Linked DNA regions of Homo sapiens: region 1 is linked to region 2. Evidence: fine-mapped expression QTL. Tissue or cell type: uterus. Region 2 holds a variant in brackets; the other region holds the start of a gene. All regions are shown on one strand. Distances are between the middles of the regions.

Evidence for each region. PIP is the estimated chance that this variant, and not a neighbour inherited with it, causes the effect.
Region 1: it holds the start of GTPBP10, and the variant in region 2 is fine-mapped to the expression of GTPBP10 in uterus (GTEx, PIP 0.96).

What each region holds. Positions count from the first base shown.
Region 1 is chr7:90,343,324-90,351,417 of GRCh38, forward strand. GTPBP10 (GTP binding protein 10) reads left to right here and starts at 3,393. Exons shown (of 10, transcript NM_033107.4): 1 at 3,393-3,451. The coding sequence starts at 3,419. All of the region lies in intron 1 of LOC107986715 (a long non-coding RNA gene), which reads right to left. It overlaps LOC101927446 (a long non-coding RNA gene), which reads left to right. Exons shown (of 6, transcript NR_110085.1): 6 at 1-771. RefSeq lists enhancers at 2,859-2,998, 3,209-3,638.
Region 2 is chr7:90,232,653-90,240,763 of GRCh38, forward strand. It overlaps STEAP2 (STEAP2 metalloreductase), which reads left to right. Exons shown (of 6, transcript NM_001244944.2): 6 at 1-5,031. LOC107986819 (a long non-coding RNA gene) reads right to left here. Exons shown (of 2, transcript XR_007060423.1): 2 at 4,935-8,111. Among named protein-coding and RNA genes, the nearest start is that of CFAP69, 8.5 kb to the right of the region's middle. RefSeq lists a silencer at 1,908-2,113. The variant T/C (reference allele first, on the strand shown) is at 4,065.

The DNA.
Region 1 (8,094 bases), 110 kb after region 2:
CCTAGTATGTAAACCTCATTTGTTTGATCCATTTAACTTCATCATTTGGGAGATATAATGGTTCTCAGACTTGTAATATTTTGACGGCATGAAACAAATAATATTTGATTTGTTACATCTGAAGGATTATAAGGCTAATGAGTAAGAATAACTCGATGCTCCACTTCAGGTGATTCGTATGCTATAGGAGTTAGCAATCTAGTTCTTGTCTTTCGTTTGAATAAATTAACAAATATTCCTAGAGTATCTACTGATTACAAGGCCTGAGCCAGACGGACCTTGTTAGGGACTCTTGAACAAGCAGAACTAAAAGCATGATAGACAAAAGGTAGAAATCTAATTAAAAGCAGTTGAGATGATGACACAAGATCAATTGAAATAATCTGCAAAGCCCAGAATGAAGTTAGACACTTTTCATTTTAGTCTGCTGACAAAATTAAGCAATATAACATCACAAAATATTAGATTTGTTAATTATATATTTGTCTATTTTATGCTTAAGTGTATCTACATTAAATGTTAGATTAAATGCAATGTGGTGTTAGTATTAGACCCTGGAGTAAAGTCATAGGTGAAAAACCAGTGAAAGCAAATAGTCTGTAGTTTAGTTAATATTCTAGCAATATTAATTTTTTTAGTTTTGAAAAATGGTTATAAAAGATGTTAACATTCGGGCAAACTGGATAAAGATTACATGGAATCTCTTTTGGCTATTTTTGTAACTTCTGTAAATTAAAAAGTACTTCAAAATAAAATTATTTAAAATTGTAATTAGAACAACTCTATATTAAATTTTTTCATAACCCTCATTATTGTGTGTGTGTGTGTATATATGTATATATGTATATATGTGTATATATGTATATATGTATATATGTGTATATATGTATATATGTATATATGTGTATATATGCATATATATGTATATATGTGTATATATGTATATATGTATATATGTATATGTATGTATATATGTATGTGTGTATATATATGGTTTTGTTTTGTTTTTTTTTTTTTTTTTTTTGAGACAGAGTCTCTCTCTGTCGCCCAGGCTGAAGTGTAGTGGCGCTATCTCGGCTCACTGCAAGCTCCGCCTCCCAGGTTCACGCCATTCTCCTGCCTCAGCCTCCTGAGTAGCTGGGACTACAGGCGCCCACTATCACGCCCGGCTAATTTTTTGTATTTTTAGTAGAGACGAGGTTTCACCGTGTTAGCCAGGATGGTCTCCATCTCCTGACCTCGTGATCCACCCGCCTCGGCCTCCCAAAATGCTGGGATTACAGGCGTGAGCCACTGCGCCTGGCCTGTTTTAAAATATTTTTAAAACCAAATTGTGAGTCATGTCGATGGCTTATTTGGGACTTTATTCAAGACTCTTTAGTGCCACTGACTTTAATGGTTTGCCCATACATCAAACTGAGCAACCCTAAGGAGGCATTCTTTCCTCTTCATGGCAGAAGTAGTAGTATTTTCCAACAATGACTTCTGCCTTAGGTCTGAATAGTGTCCTAAACATTTTGCCTCATGTTCATTTTAGCTGCACATTTTAAAGGGGACAGTTTCCAGTTACACAATGTTTCTTTTACTATCTGGTAATGAGAGTTATAATAAATACTTCAGGCCCTGACCACATTTTGTCAGAGGTAAATATTATGCTTTCTTTTTTGTTTACAGTACACAATGATCCTCATCATTTTGAGATATTTCTATATCAATCTCCCATTTTTTTTTTTTTAGTTGCTGTGATCATTTCCCCATGTATATGTTATGTGAAAGAAAAGTATTTGAGATTGTGTTCACTAACAAGAAATAGGCATTGGAAAATAAGTACATTGGGCTCAACACTATTCTGACACAATAGGAAAACCTAGTAAGATAGTAATCTTAATGGCAGCAAATGTCATTAAATTAAAAACATCTACACAGCAACAACCTAATGTTCATATTAATGAGAGGTAGGAACACTGATAGTAATCAACATCTGTTGCTGGTGTTAATATTCAACATTAAAGTAATCCACAGAGGGAAAATACAACTACTGCAGGTTAAATGACAACTACAGCTTTTCTGATTGGTGGTTGTAAGCAGAAGGTCCAGTAGCAGCAAAGTAATCAAGACGGGGTTTTCACATCATGTCTTTCCAAATAATCACTGTCCTAAGTGAGGAGTAGAAGACACTGTCACATTGAGGTATTAGTCAGTTTTCACAGTGCCATAAAGAACTGCGCAGACTGGGTAATTTATAAAGGAAAGAGGCTTAATTGATTCACAGTTCTACATGGCTGGGGAGGCCTTAGAAAACTTATAATCATGGCAAAAGGGGAAGCGGAAACAAGCACCTTCTTCACATGGCAAGCAGGAGAGAGAAGAAAGAAGGAGGAACTTCCAAACACTTATAAAACCGTCAGCTCTTGTGGGAACTCCCTATCAGGAGAGCGGCAGGAGAGAAACAGCCCTGCATGATCCAATCACTTCCCTACTTCCACAATGGGGATTACAAATGAAGATGAGATTTGGGTGGCGACACAGAGCCATATCGTATCAAAGTATGAAAGGTTTCTAGGATTTATTAGTTTGGGTTGTTAAGAGTTATACGGCTGGCAACGCTGTGCAGGGCCGTTTACTTCAGCTGCATACATTTTTTCGCTGCATGAGGGGTTGGGGAGAGCTACTCTCTTCTGGTCCTGAAAAGTAATCAAGAGAGAGAGGGATTTTTCACATCGTGTCTTAATTCTCACAAAGGCACGCTTCAAATGACGGATAAAAACCCGTCTTCCCGACTCCAAGAAGCTACTTTCTGACAGTTGTAAACAAGCTTCTTTCTCTTACTGCACAGGAGAGTCCTCTTACAGATCTCAGATCCTGACATTATTTTCAATAAAACTTTGTGCGGCCGCTAGTTTTAAATTCATGGTCTCCTGGAAGCTTTGGCTGGAGACTACTCAGCTCGTCACTGAACTAACGGCTTTTGGGGGTTCTTTTTTCCCAGTTGAGTTTCTGTGTCTTTTACACGTTTGGTTTTATGGTCCGTTGGAGGTTTTTTCACGCTGAGGGTGAAGATTCTTAGTTTCCTCAATTAGCATAAAAGCTGCTCCAAGGCTGCTGAGTCTTCAGTTCCATTCCATTCAAAATGTTAATTCCTGAGACACGCAACCTACGCCCTACTGTCCTTTGTCCCACGGCTTCTCGAGATTATCTCTGTGTTTTAATAGATAAAACGCCTTCTCTCCCCACCCGTGGGGTGCAAAGCACAGCGCATGGGGCTGGTGGCGCCCGAGAGCATCACACAACGCATGCGCCAGTCCGCAGGTGTGGGCGGAGGAGAAATCGCGTCGGCGGCAGGGGATGACGTAAAAAGGCCGCGCTGTACTGCGGCTTGTGCCGCTTCCGCAAGAAGGTTTCCTGGCCTGTTGCAGCCATGGTGCATTGCAGTTGCGTGTTGTTCAGAAAGGTCCGTGCGGGTCCCCTCAGCCTGGTCCCCTTAGCGCTGACAGCTCTGGTTCTTCTTTGCTCCCCTGTCTCTCCACTACTGTCTTCGTGGCGGCCTTTTCCTTGCTTGGTTTTCCCATAGACTTCTCCGCCCCTCCTGTAGTGGCGCTTTGTCAGTAAGCGGTGACAGTGGTGTGTGTACCTGGCGTGGTTTGGACGGTTGTTTGGGGGCAGGGGCAGGGTTTGAAGTTCTTTAGAGACATAGTGTGCACGTGGTATGAGGAACTGGGATACCTGCCTGCTGTGGCCCAAATGTTGTGGTGGTTTTTTTTCCTTTAATGTCCACAGCCTGTTTTTATATATTTCTCCTTGAGTGCGCTGTTTAAGGTTTTTCTAATGGATTTTTATGAAGACACGAAAGCGTGTAATTGATGTGCCTTCCTGCAGAACATTTAGGTCGATTTTTGTGTGGTGTCGGTCTTAAGAATCGTTTCCGTAAAAATTTACAACTGCTTTGAATTTTTATTTTTTAAATCTTATCCTATCAGTAATGCTTTTTGAAACGTTGCCTGCGTCATATTTGGCCATTACTTTATTTCTAACGACCAGAGTAAAATACTCCTTTTAAGTAAGGCTCCTAAACCCCTGAATCTGATTAATCTAGAGCAGGAAAAAAGTGTTACATATTTAATGGAACTGTAGAAACTCTCCTCGAGTATATCAGAATGGTCAATATTTCAACTTTCTTGAAAAAAAAATCCCATTTGTTTTTTATAATAGCTATCCTAAATGACTAGAGATGTGGATTATGAATTTAAGAAATTACTCCTTAAGTTATTTTGATTTTAATAGCCTAAGAGGTTAATACGTAAGTCCTTTACCTACAAGAAGTTCTTGATTTAGTGAAGGAAACAGGTAAACACTAAATGCAGCGTGAGATTTATAAAGGTGTAATAATAGAGATATAATCAAATTGCTGGGAGAGCCAGCAAAGTCAGAGAATTGATTAGAGGAATTTGGAAAGACGTTAGAAAATATGACGTTTAGGTGGATTTATGATAGGAAAAACAAATGACATTCTAAGTAGAGGAAAAGCATGAGCAGAATGGCATGTAGAAATGGCGGTATTTCATGTAGTACAGAGCAAAGAGGAAGAGAGGAAGGGTTGAGCAAGTGAAAAGGATACAGGAAGGAACTAGGCATGGTAGGTGAGCCTATTGTTCTTGCTACTTGGGAGGCTGAGGTGGGAGGATCCCTTAAGGCCAGGAGTTCAAGACCAGTCTGGGCAACATAGCAAGACCCCATCTTTAAAACAGTCGGGGTGGTGTGGTGCCTGTAGTCCCAGCCATTTGGGAGGCTGAAGTGGGAGAATTGCTTGAGCCCAGGAGTTTGAGGCTGCAGCAATGATAGTGCTATGATAGTGCCACGGCACTCGAGCCCAGGCACCAGAACCAGACCCTGTTTCAAAAAAAAGAAAATAAAAGATACCAGAAGGGTATTTTAGTAGCTTTGGATATACAGTTGACCCTTCAAGAACATGGGGGTTAGAGATGCCCCCGCCACAGCTGAAAATCTTCATGTAACTTTCAACTCCCCCCACAAAACAACTACTAATAATCTGTTGGCTGGAAGCCTCACTGATAACATAAGCCGTCAGTTGACACATATAAAATATATATATAGTATATACTGTATTCTTAAATTAAGCTAGAGAAAAGAAACAGTTACTAAGAAAGTCAGAAAGAAGGGAAAATATATTTACTGTTCATTAAATGGAAGTGAATTGTAAAGGTCTTCATCCTTATAGTCTTCATGTTGAATAGACTGAGGAGGAAGAGGAGGAGTTGGTCTTGCTCTCTTGGGTGGCAGAGGCAGAAGGGGTGGGGGTGGAGGAGGTGGAAGGGGAGGCAAGAGAGGCAGACACACTATGTGTAACTTTATGGAAGTACATCATAATTTCTGTCATGCTTTTGCTTTTCTCTTTCCCCCAAAAAAATGTTTCTATAGGGTACCAATACCTCTTCCACCATTTGCTTTGGTTTCAGTGCCTCTTCACAGAAGGGTCCATGTCATAAAAGAAGTCAAAAGCAGTCCTGAACAATAGGAGCTCTTCTGCCAGATTATCTAATGTTCGTTTTTCTGGTAGTTTATTCTGTGTTTTCTTCCTTGTTATCTGGCACTGGATCTGAAGCACTCATCAAGCTGTCTTCTGTTAATTCCTCTGGTTTGGTGGCTGTTAGCTCTTGAGTTTCTTCAAGATCCATATCTTGAAGTCCTTTACCCACTTTCCCGCCGTTTTTGGCATATTCACAGCCTCTTTCATGATTTCCTTGATTGGCTCTTTTGTAAATCCTGTGAAATTATAACACAACACAACACCTGGACAAAGTTTTCTCCAGCACGAACTTACTGTTTGGGGCTTATGGCTTTCATGGCTTTTTCAATAATAATGGCATCTTCAATTATGTAAACTTCAGATTTTCCTGAAGTTTTCTCTATTAGTGTTCTTTTCCATGGTTGACAATCCTTTTCGTAGAAAATCATGTTTAATGAGCCTTAAAGGTCCTTGCGACCCCGTGATCTAGAGGCTGATTTACAGACATTGTGTTTGGGGGCAAGGACACCACTTCAGTGCCTTTGATGTTGAACTCATGGGGTTCTGGGTAGCGGGGAGGTGGGGCACTGTCCATTAGCAGAGGAACTTTACAAGTCAGTCTCGTATTGGGAAGGTACTTCCTGACTTCAGGGAGAAAGCATCCATGGAACCAATCCAGAGAAAAGGTTTTTGTTCTCTAGGCCTTCTTATCCAACAAAGACTGGCAGCTGATGTTTATCTTTCCCTTTCAAGATTGAGGGGTTAGCAGCTTTATAGATAAGGACAGTCCTGATTACAAACACAACTGCATTTGCACAATACAGTAGGGTTAGCCTATCCCTTCCTGGCTTAAATCCTGGTGCTCCCTTCTCTTCCTTACTAATGTCTTTTGTAGCATGTTTTCCAGAATAGGGTACTTTCATCAGCATTAACAACCTGATTTGGGAGATATTCTTTCGTCTCAGTGATTTTCTTAATGGCATCTGGGAACTCATCTGCTGCCTCTTAGTTGGCAGAACCTGCTTCACCTGTTATCTTGATATTTCTAAAGCCAAAGCCAAACCTATTTCTTCTTTTTTTTTTTTAAATTATACTTTAAGTTCTAGGGTACATGTACACAGCGTGCAGGTTTGTTACATAGGTATACATGTGCCATGTTGGTTTGCTGCACCCATTAACTTGTCATTTACATTGGGTATTTCTCCTAATGTTATCTCTCACCCAGCCCCCAACCCCATGACAGGTCCCAGTGTGTGATGTTCCCCCCGTGTCCCAAGTGTTCTCATTGTTCAGTTCCCACCTATGAGTGAGAACATGTGGTGTTTGGTTTTCTGTCCTTGTGATAGTTTGGTCAGAATGATGGTTTCCAGCTGCATCCATGTCACTCATCCTTTTTATGGCTGCATAGTATTCCATCGTGTATATGTGCCACATTTTCTTAATCCAGTCTATCATTGATGGACATTTGGGTTGGTTCCAAGTCTTTGCTGTTGTGAATAGTGCCACAATAAACATACGTGTGCATGTGTCTTTATAGTGGCATGATTTTTAATCCTTTGGGTATATATCCAGTAATGGGATGGCTGGGTCAAATGGTATTTCTAGTTCTAGATTCTTGAGGAATCTAGAACTGTCTTCCACAGTCAAACCTCCTTCTAAAATTATCAAATCATCCTTTGCTGGCAATTAATTCTTTAGCTTTAGATCCTTCACATTCCTTTTGCTTTTAAGTTGTCATATGGTAACCTTACTTTTTCTTTTATTGTATTAGTCTATGTTTTTAAAATAGGAATCCTGCATCTACATAAAAGTTGCCTTTTTAATACAAGATAAAAAGTTAATTCACAAAAAGTGCAAGGTTTTCACACCTTTTGGCATAGCTGCTGCAGTGGCTTCATGAATTTTTGTCTTTTTTTACACTGATTCTTATTCTGGATTCATTTATCTTGAGATAGCAGGCCATCGCAGCTACAGATTTTAATCTGTGGTAGATATCAAGCAATTCATCTTTTTATCGTAGTGTCATGACTTTACTTCTTGGGAGCACTGCCAGCATCACTAGTGGCACTTTGTATGGGTTCCATGGTGGTGTTCAAGGTTTACAGTGTAGCGCTGAACATGATGAAAAATGCAAGAGAACTGTGAGAGATTACTTTTTACTGACTTATAAAATGTACTGGCAAGATGAACTGCTCATGGGGAGACGATTAGCATCACATGGCCTTTTAAGTGGCAACTTGGGACACTTGAGATCCCGGGATAGTTACAGGAGGTAACTACGAAATTATTACAGTATTCCACGATGTACTACAGTTAATTTTATGCAGTTATGATTTAATACTGCATTTTTACATTTGCTTACATTTCTCTTGACTGCAAATGCTGCCATGTAAGATCTGTAAGTGTGTGTGTAAGTTTTGATAAATTTTAAGTTTTTATAATAGATGTGTGGCCAGGTGCAGTAGCTCATGCCTGTAATTCCAGCACTTTGGGAGGCCAAGGCAAGAGGATTGTTTGTGGCCAGGAGTTTGAGACCAGCCTGGGCAACATAGCAAAACCCCATCTCTAGT
Region 2 (8,111 bases):
AAAGTTCTACTCATGCCATTATTTTTATGACTTCTACGTTCAGTTACAAGTATGCTGTCAAATTATCGTGGGTTGAAACTTGTTAAATGAGATTTCAACTGACTTAGTGATAGAGTTTTCTTCAAGTTAATTTTCACAAATGTCATGTTTGCCAATATGAATTTTTCTAGTCAACATATTATTGTAATTTAGGTATGTTTTGTTTTGTTTTGCACAACTGTAACCCTGTTGTTACTTTATATTTCATAATCAGGCAAAAATACTTACAGTTAATAATATAGATATAATGTTAAAAACAATTTGCAAACCAGCAGAATTTTAAGCTTTTAAAATAATTCAATGGATATACATTTTTTTCTGAAGATTAAGATTTTAATTATTCAACTTAAAAAGTAGAAATGCATTATTATACATTTTTTTAAGAAAGGACACGTTATGTTAGCATCTAGGTAAGGCTGCATGATAGCATTCCTATATTTCTCTCATAAAATAGGATTTGAAGGATGAAATTAATTGTATGAAGCAATGTGATTATATGAAGAGACACAAATTAAAAAGACAAATTAAACCTGAAATTATATTTAAAATATATTTGAGACATGAAATACATACTGATAATACATACCTCATGAAAGATTTTATTCTTTATTGTGTTACAGAGCAGTTTCATTTTCATATTAATATACTGATCAGGAAGAGGATTCAGTAACATTTGGCTTCCAAAACTGCTATCTCTAATACGGTACCAATCCTAGGAACTGTATACTAGTTCCTACTTAGAACAAAAGTATCAAGTTTGCACACAAGTAATCTGCCAGCTGACCTTTGTCGCACCTTAACCAGTCACCACTTGCTATGGTATAGGATTATACTGATGTTCTTTGAGGGATTCTGATGTGCTAGGCATGGTTCTAAGTACTTTACTTGTATTATCCCATTTAATACTTAGAACAACCCCGTGAGATAAGTAGTTATTATCCTCATTTTACACATGAGGGACCGAAGGATAGAAAAGTTATTTTTCAAAGGTCTTGCAGTTAATAAATGGCAGAGTGAGCATTCAAGTCCAGGTAGTCATATTCCAGAGGCCACGGTTTTAACCACTAGGCTCTAGAGCTCCCGCCGCGCCCCTATGCATTATGTTCACAATGCCAATCTAGATGCTTCCTCTTTTGTATAAAGTCACTGACATTCTTTAGAGTGGGTTGGGTGCATCCAAAAATGTATAAAAATATTATTATAATAAACTTATTACTGCTTGTAGGGTAATTCACAGTTACTTACCCTATTCTTGCTTGGAACATGAGCCTGGAGACCCATGGCAGTCCATATGCCTCCCTATGCAGTGAAGGGCCCTAGCAGTGTTAACAAATTGCTGAGATCCCACGGAGTCTTTCAAAAATCTCTGTAGAGTTAGTCTTCTCCTTTTCTCTTCCTGAGAAGTTCTCCTGCCTGCATAACCATTCATTAGGGAGTACTTTACAAGCATGAAGGATATTAGGGTAAGTGGCTAATTATAAATCTACTCTAGAGACATATAATCATACAGATTATTCATAAAATTTTTCAGTGCTGTCCTTCCACATTTAATTGCATTTTGCTCAAACTGTAGAATGCCCTACATTCCCCCCACCCCAATTTGCTATTTCCTTATTAAAATAGAAAATTATAGGCAAGATACAATTATATGCGTTCCTCTTCCTGAAATTATAACATTTCTAAACTTACCCACGTAGGTACTACTGAATCCAACTGCCAACAATAAAAAGACTTTTATTTAGTAGAGGCTACCTTTCCCACCAGTGACTCTTTTTCTACAACTGCCTTGTCAGTTTGGTAATTCACTTATGATTTTCTAATGTTCTCTTGGTGAATTTTATTATCTTGTACCCTCTTTTTTTTTTTTTTTTTTTTTAAAGACAGAGTCTTGCTCTGTCACCCAGGCTGGAGTGCAGTGGCACGATCTCGGCTCACTGCAAGCTCTGCCTCCCGGGTTCACGCCATTCTCCTGCCTCAGCCTCCCGAGTAGCTGGGACTACAGGTGCCCGCCACCATGCCCGGCTGATTTCTTTTTGTATTTTTAGTAGAGACGGAGTTTCACCGTGTTAGCCAGGATGGTCTCGATCTCCTGACCTCGTGATCCGCCCGCCTTGGCCTCCAAAGTGCTGGGATTACAGGTGTGAGCTACCGCGCCCGGCCTATTATCTTGTACTTTCTAACTGAGCCCTCTATTTTCTTTATTTTAATAATATTTCTCCCCACTTGAGAATCACTTGTTAGTTCTTGGTAGGAATTCAGTTGGGCAATGATAACTTTTATGGGCAAAAACATTCTATTATAGTGAACTAATGAAAATAACAGCGTATTTTCAATATTTTCTTATTCCTTAAATTCCACTCTTTTAACACTATGCTTAACCACTTAATGTGATGAAATATTCCTAAAAGTTAAATGACTATTAAAGCATATATTGTTGCATGTATATATTAAGTAGCCGATACTCTAAATAAAAATACCACTGTTACAGATAAATGGGGCCTTTAAAAATATGAAAAACAAACTTGTGAAAATGTATAAAAGATGCATCTGTTGTTTCAAATGGCACTATCTTCTTTTCAGTACTACAAAAACAGAATAATTTTGAAGTTTTAGAATAAATGTAATATATTTACTATAATTCTAAATGTTTAAATGCTTTTCTAAAAATGCAAAACTATGATGTTTAGTTGCTTTATTTTACCTCTATGTGATTATTTTTCTTAATTGTTATTTTTTATAATCATTATTTTTCTGAACCATTCTTCTGGCCTCAGAAGTAGGACTGAATTCTACTATTGCTAGGTGTGAGAAAGTGGTGGTGAGAACCTTAGAGCAGTGGAGATTTGCTACCTGGTCTGTGTTTTGAGAAGTGCCCCTTAGAAAGTTAAAAGAATGTAGAAAAGATACTCAGTCTTAATCCTATGCAAAAAAAAAAATCAAGTAATTGTTTTCCTATGAGGAAAATAACCATGAGCTGTATCATGCTACTTAGCTTTTATGTAAATATTTCTTATGTCTCCTCTATTAAGAGTATTTAAAATCATATTTAAATATGAATCTATTCATGCTAACATTATTTTTCAAAACATACATGGAAATTTAGCCCAGATTGTCTACATATAAGGTTTTTATTTGAATTGTAAAATATTTAAAAGTATGAATAAAATATATTTATAGGTATTTATCAGAGATGATTATTTTGTGCTACATACAGGTTGGCTAATGAGCTCTAGTGTTAAACTACCTGATTAATTTCTTATAAAGCAGCATAACCTTGGCTTGATTAAGGAATTCTACTTTCAAAAATTAATCTGATAATAGTAACAAGGTATATTATACTTTCATTACAATCAAATTATAGAAATTACTTGTGTAAAAGGGCTTCAAGAATATATCCAATTTTTAAATATTTTAATATATCTCCTATCTGATAACTTAATTCTTCTAAATTACCACTTGCCATTAAGCTATTTCATAATAAATTCTGTACAGTTTCCCCCCAAAAAAGAGATTTATTTATGAAATATTTAAAGTTTCTAATGTGGTATTTTAAATAAAGTATCATAAATGTAATAAGTAAATATTTATTTAGGAATACTGTGAACACTGAACTAATTATTCCTGTGTCAGTCTATGAAATCCCTGTTTTGAAATACGTAAACAGCCTAAAATGTGTTGAAATTATTTTGTAAATCCATGACTTAAAACAAGATACATACATAGTATAACACACCTCACAGTGTTAAGATTTATATTGTGAAATGAGACACCCTACCTTCAATTGTTCATCAGTGGGTAAAACAAATTCTGATGTACATTCAGGACAAATGATTAGCCCTAAATGAAACTGTAATAATTTCAGTGGAAACTCAATCTGTTTTTACCTTTAAACAGTGAATTTTACATGAATGAATGGGTTCTTCACTTTTTTTTTAGTATGAGAAAATTATACAGTGCTTAATTTTCAGAGATTCTTTCCATATGTTACTAAAAAATGTTTTGTTCAGCCTAACATACTGAGTTTT[T/C]TTTAACTTTCTAAATTATTGAATTTCCATCATGCATTCATCCAAAATTAAGGCAGACTGTTTGGATTCTTCCAGTGGCCAGATGAGCTAAATTAAATCACAAAAGCAGATGCTTTTGTATGATCTCCAAATTGCCAACTTTAAGGAAATATTCTCTTGAAATTGTCTTTAAAGATCTTTTGCAGCTTTGCAGATACCCAGACTGAGCTGGAACTGGAATTTGTCTTCCTATTGACTCTACTTCTTTAAAAGCGGCTGCCCATTACATTCCTCAGCTGTCCTTGCAGTTAGGTGTACATGTGACTGAGTGTTGGCCAGTGAGATGAAGTCTCCTCAAAGGAAGGCAGCATGTGTCCTTTTTCATCCCTTCATCTTGCTGCTGGGATTGTGGATATAACAGGAGCCCTGGCAGCTGTCTCCAGAGGATCAAAGCCACACCCAAAGAGTAAGGCAGATTAGAGACCAGAAAGACCTTGACTACTTCCCTACTTCCACTGCTTTTTCCTGCATTTAAGCCATTGTAAATCTGGGTGTGTTACATGAAGTGAAAATTAATTCTTTCTGCCCTTCAGTTCTTTATCCTGATACCATTTAACACTGTCTGAATTAACTAGACTGCAATAATTCTTTCTTTTGAAAGCTTTTAAAGGATAATGTGCAATTCACATTAAAATTGATTTTCCATTGTCAATTAGTTATACTCATTTTCCTGCCTTGATCTTTCATTAGATATTTTGTATCTGCTTGGAATATATTATCTTCTTTTTAACTGTGTAATTGGTAATTACTAAAACTCTGTAATCTCCAAAATATTGCTATCAAATTACACACCATGTTTTCTATCATTCTCATAGATCTGCCTTATAAACATTTAAATAAAAAGTACTATTTAATGATTTAACTTCTGTTTTGAAATGTTGTATACACGTGGATTTTTTTCTCATTAAATAATAATTCTAGTATTTGATGGAGGCCTTCTAATACTTTTCTGAGTTATTTCTTTTCAGAAGCATCCAGAAAGCAATACATGTGATAGTTATGGAGGGGTTTTGTTTGTTTTTACTAAAATAGTCATTTAGAAAAACCTCCATTTACATTTATTTTATTACATTATTTCATTTTACTAGCATTCATTAAGCATCTTTAAATCAGAACACACACAATATTCAAGCTATTCTGTAAACTCCCCGTAGCAGAAATTTTGTCTTATTTACTACTAAATCCCCAGTATCTAGTATAATGTGATCTATGATGGATACTAAAGAGATATTATAATAAATAATTACCCATTTTTACAGAAAATTATGTTTTTTATCATCCCGCATCCATGCAGCCATGCCTACATCCTCTTGCCTCTTCCTCATGCCTTGCCTCCTGGCCAGTGGCCTAGCGCTACCCTGTTGTCCTAAAGAGTTTCTGCTGCTGCTGCCACTACCACCACCACCACACTGCTATATGTTGAGGAGTCCTGTACACTGTGCCACTGACAAGGAGTAACTGACCTTTGTGCCTGTGCACCAGATCTGTCTGTGGAGGTTCTGGCTTCCCCAGCTGCTGCCTGGAAATGCTTAGGTGCTAATATCCTGAGAGGAGGATTGTCAGGTAAAATACAGGACTCTCAGTTAAATTTGAATTGCAGACAAACAATAAATTACTTTTTATTATAAGCATGGGCTTTTTAAAATTTTTCTAAATCTGGCAACCCTACTTAAGGAGTGAACTTTGATCAAGGAGGTACAGCACAAAATGAAGCTAGTAGATAAATTCTCCCTTCCTTTCCCCCAGATAGGCTGTTCTAAAGTGCAATAATTCATAAGACCTTCATGAAAATATCCTCAAAGACCGAGCAATTAACTGCACTTGTTGCAAAGCTATGACAAGCTCACTAACACCTGTGTTTGTGTTCCCTTCTCCTACTGCCTCACTTCCATGTTTTTCCTCACTTCTGTTTCTCAGAGATAGTACTCCCCATAGAGTGGCAGCAGGTGAGTGTTGGTGTTGTTTGTTTATGGCAGGCTTGGGGAACCTAGACTAGTACAGTACTTTTGGTAGTGGATTCTTCTAATGGGAAGTGAAACAAGAGACAAATGATGACTTTGAGAAAGTCAGGCACGGGACCCTGCAGACTCAAAATCCAGATTTGTTGAGACCCCTGAGAGTAGAAAAACCCCTCAGGGGCAGATTCACATTGATCAAATGTACAGTCATACACTGTTAAATCAAAATAGTAACTCAGCACTACTGTGTGAAATATCAGTGTCCTGTAGGCGAGAATACCATTTGTGCCTTGATTAAACATACTTTATTCTTGAATCTGCTGTTTATAAGAATTGAAGTTATAATTCAAAAGATACTGGGATCTGTTATGGGCTGAACTGTGTTTCCTCAAAATTGATACATTGAAATCCTAACTCCCACACTACCTCAGAATGTATTTGGAGATAGGATCTTTAAAGAGGTAAAGTGAGGTCATACAGTTGGGCCCTAATCCAGTATGACTGGTGTCCTCATAAGAAGAGGAGATTAGGAATCAGGCATGCACAGAGGGAAGACCACGTGAAGTAAAAGGGAGAAGACGGCATGCCAAGGAGAGATGCCTCGAGATGAAACCAATCCTGCCAACACCTTAGTCTTCAACTTCTAGCCTCCAGAACTGTAACAAAATAAATTTCTGTTGTTAAAGCCACCCAGTCTGTGGTATTTGTTACAGCAGTCTTCAAAAACTAATACAAGGTTCATAGAATCAAAACAAGTCAATTTAGATATAGAACTCAAATAATTAATGTCATTGGAACAAACCTGTCTGATTAATCTTGCTCCACAACAAAGACAGTTCTATCCTGGGGTTATTGCACTATAACTACCCACCATTTAAACACAATAAATAGTTGTTCTAAAATCTCGGGAACATTTTTTTTTCATATAATTATTCCCATGTCATGGAACTGAAGCTTTGGGTAAAAGCGCTTTATAAATTCTTCTTTTAATTTTTTTTACTTTCAATTTGTTTACTTTTCCACTAAACACGAGTAGTTCCTGCAGCTTCCTACTTAAAAATCACTTGCAGTTTGGGTTATTGTTAGTATACTTTTCATTAGAATGGTTGTCTTCAGGGGTGACTATTCTTTTACTTTCGTTTTCTGTTCCACGTGCTTATTCTTCCCAAATGTACATTAATGATTCTGTTGGAAAGAGGTAATTACTTTTGTTTTGTTTTTAGGCTTTGTTTCTGTGCTGTCAACCTGAAAAAGTTTTTTAAAACAGTGAAGTATAGGCTGGGAGCGGTGGCTCACGCCTGTGATCCTAGCACTTTGGGAGGCCAAAGTGGGCAGATCGTTTGAACCCAGGAGTTCAAGACCAACCTGGGCAATATGGTGAAACCCCATCTCTACAAAAAACAACAAAAATTAGCCAGACACGGTGGCACACACTTGTAGTTCCAGCTGCTCGTGAGGCTAAGGTGGGAGGTGGGAGGATCACCTGAGCCCAGGGAGGTCAGGGCTGCAGTGAGCAGAGATCACGCCACTGCACCCCAGCCTGGGTGACAGAGTGAGACCCTGTCTCAAAAAAAAAAAAAATTAAGTATAATAAATTCTGGTTTTGTATGCATTTCTTCTCTTACAGAATTTCCCTAAAGCTAACCTACTAAAAACTATGACTAGATTTCATATGTGCTATAAACATTCTTTATTTAAAATAAATTACTCTAATTCAGAAAGGAATAACATTTGCTTGCACATTTAGAACATCTGGCATTAGAGACTATAAAATTCATATATAGTCTCAAATACTTATTAGACATATTCTTAATTCAAGAATATATAATTATTCATATGATTAGAAATAATTATAATTTTACTAAACATTGCTAATTAGGCAGAGTACAAACAAGAAAAAGTCAGAAGGAAAATAGAACCACAATTTGCAATATATTTATTTTAAAACATTTTTAGCTTTCTTTGTTACTTTTAAAAGTAAAACTTGTAAGTCAATATATTATTAAAACTACTAGTTAATCTTTAAGTCTACAGGTGCTACTAAGAAATT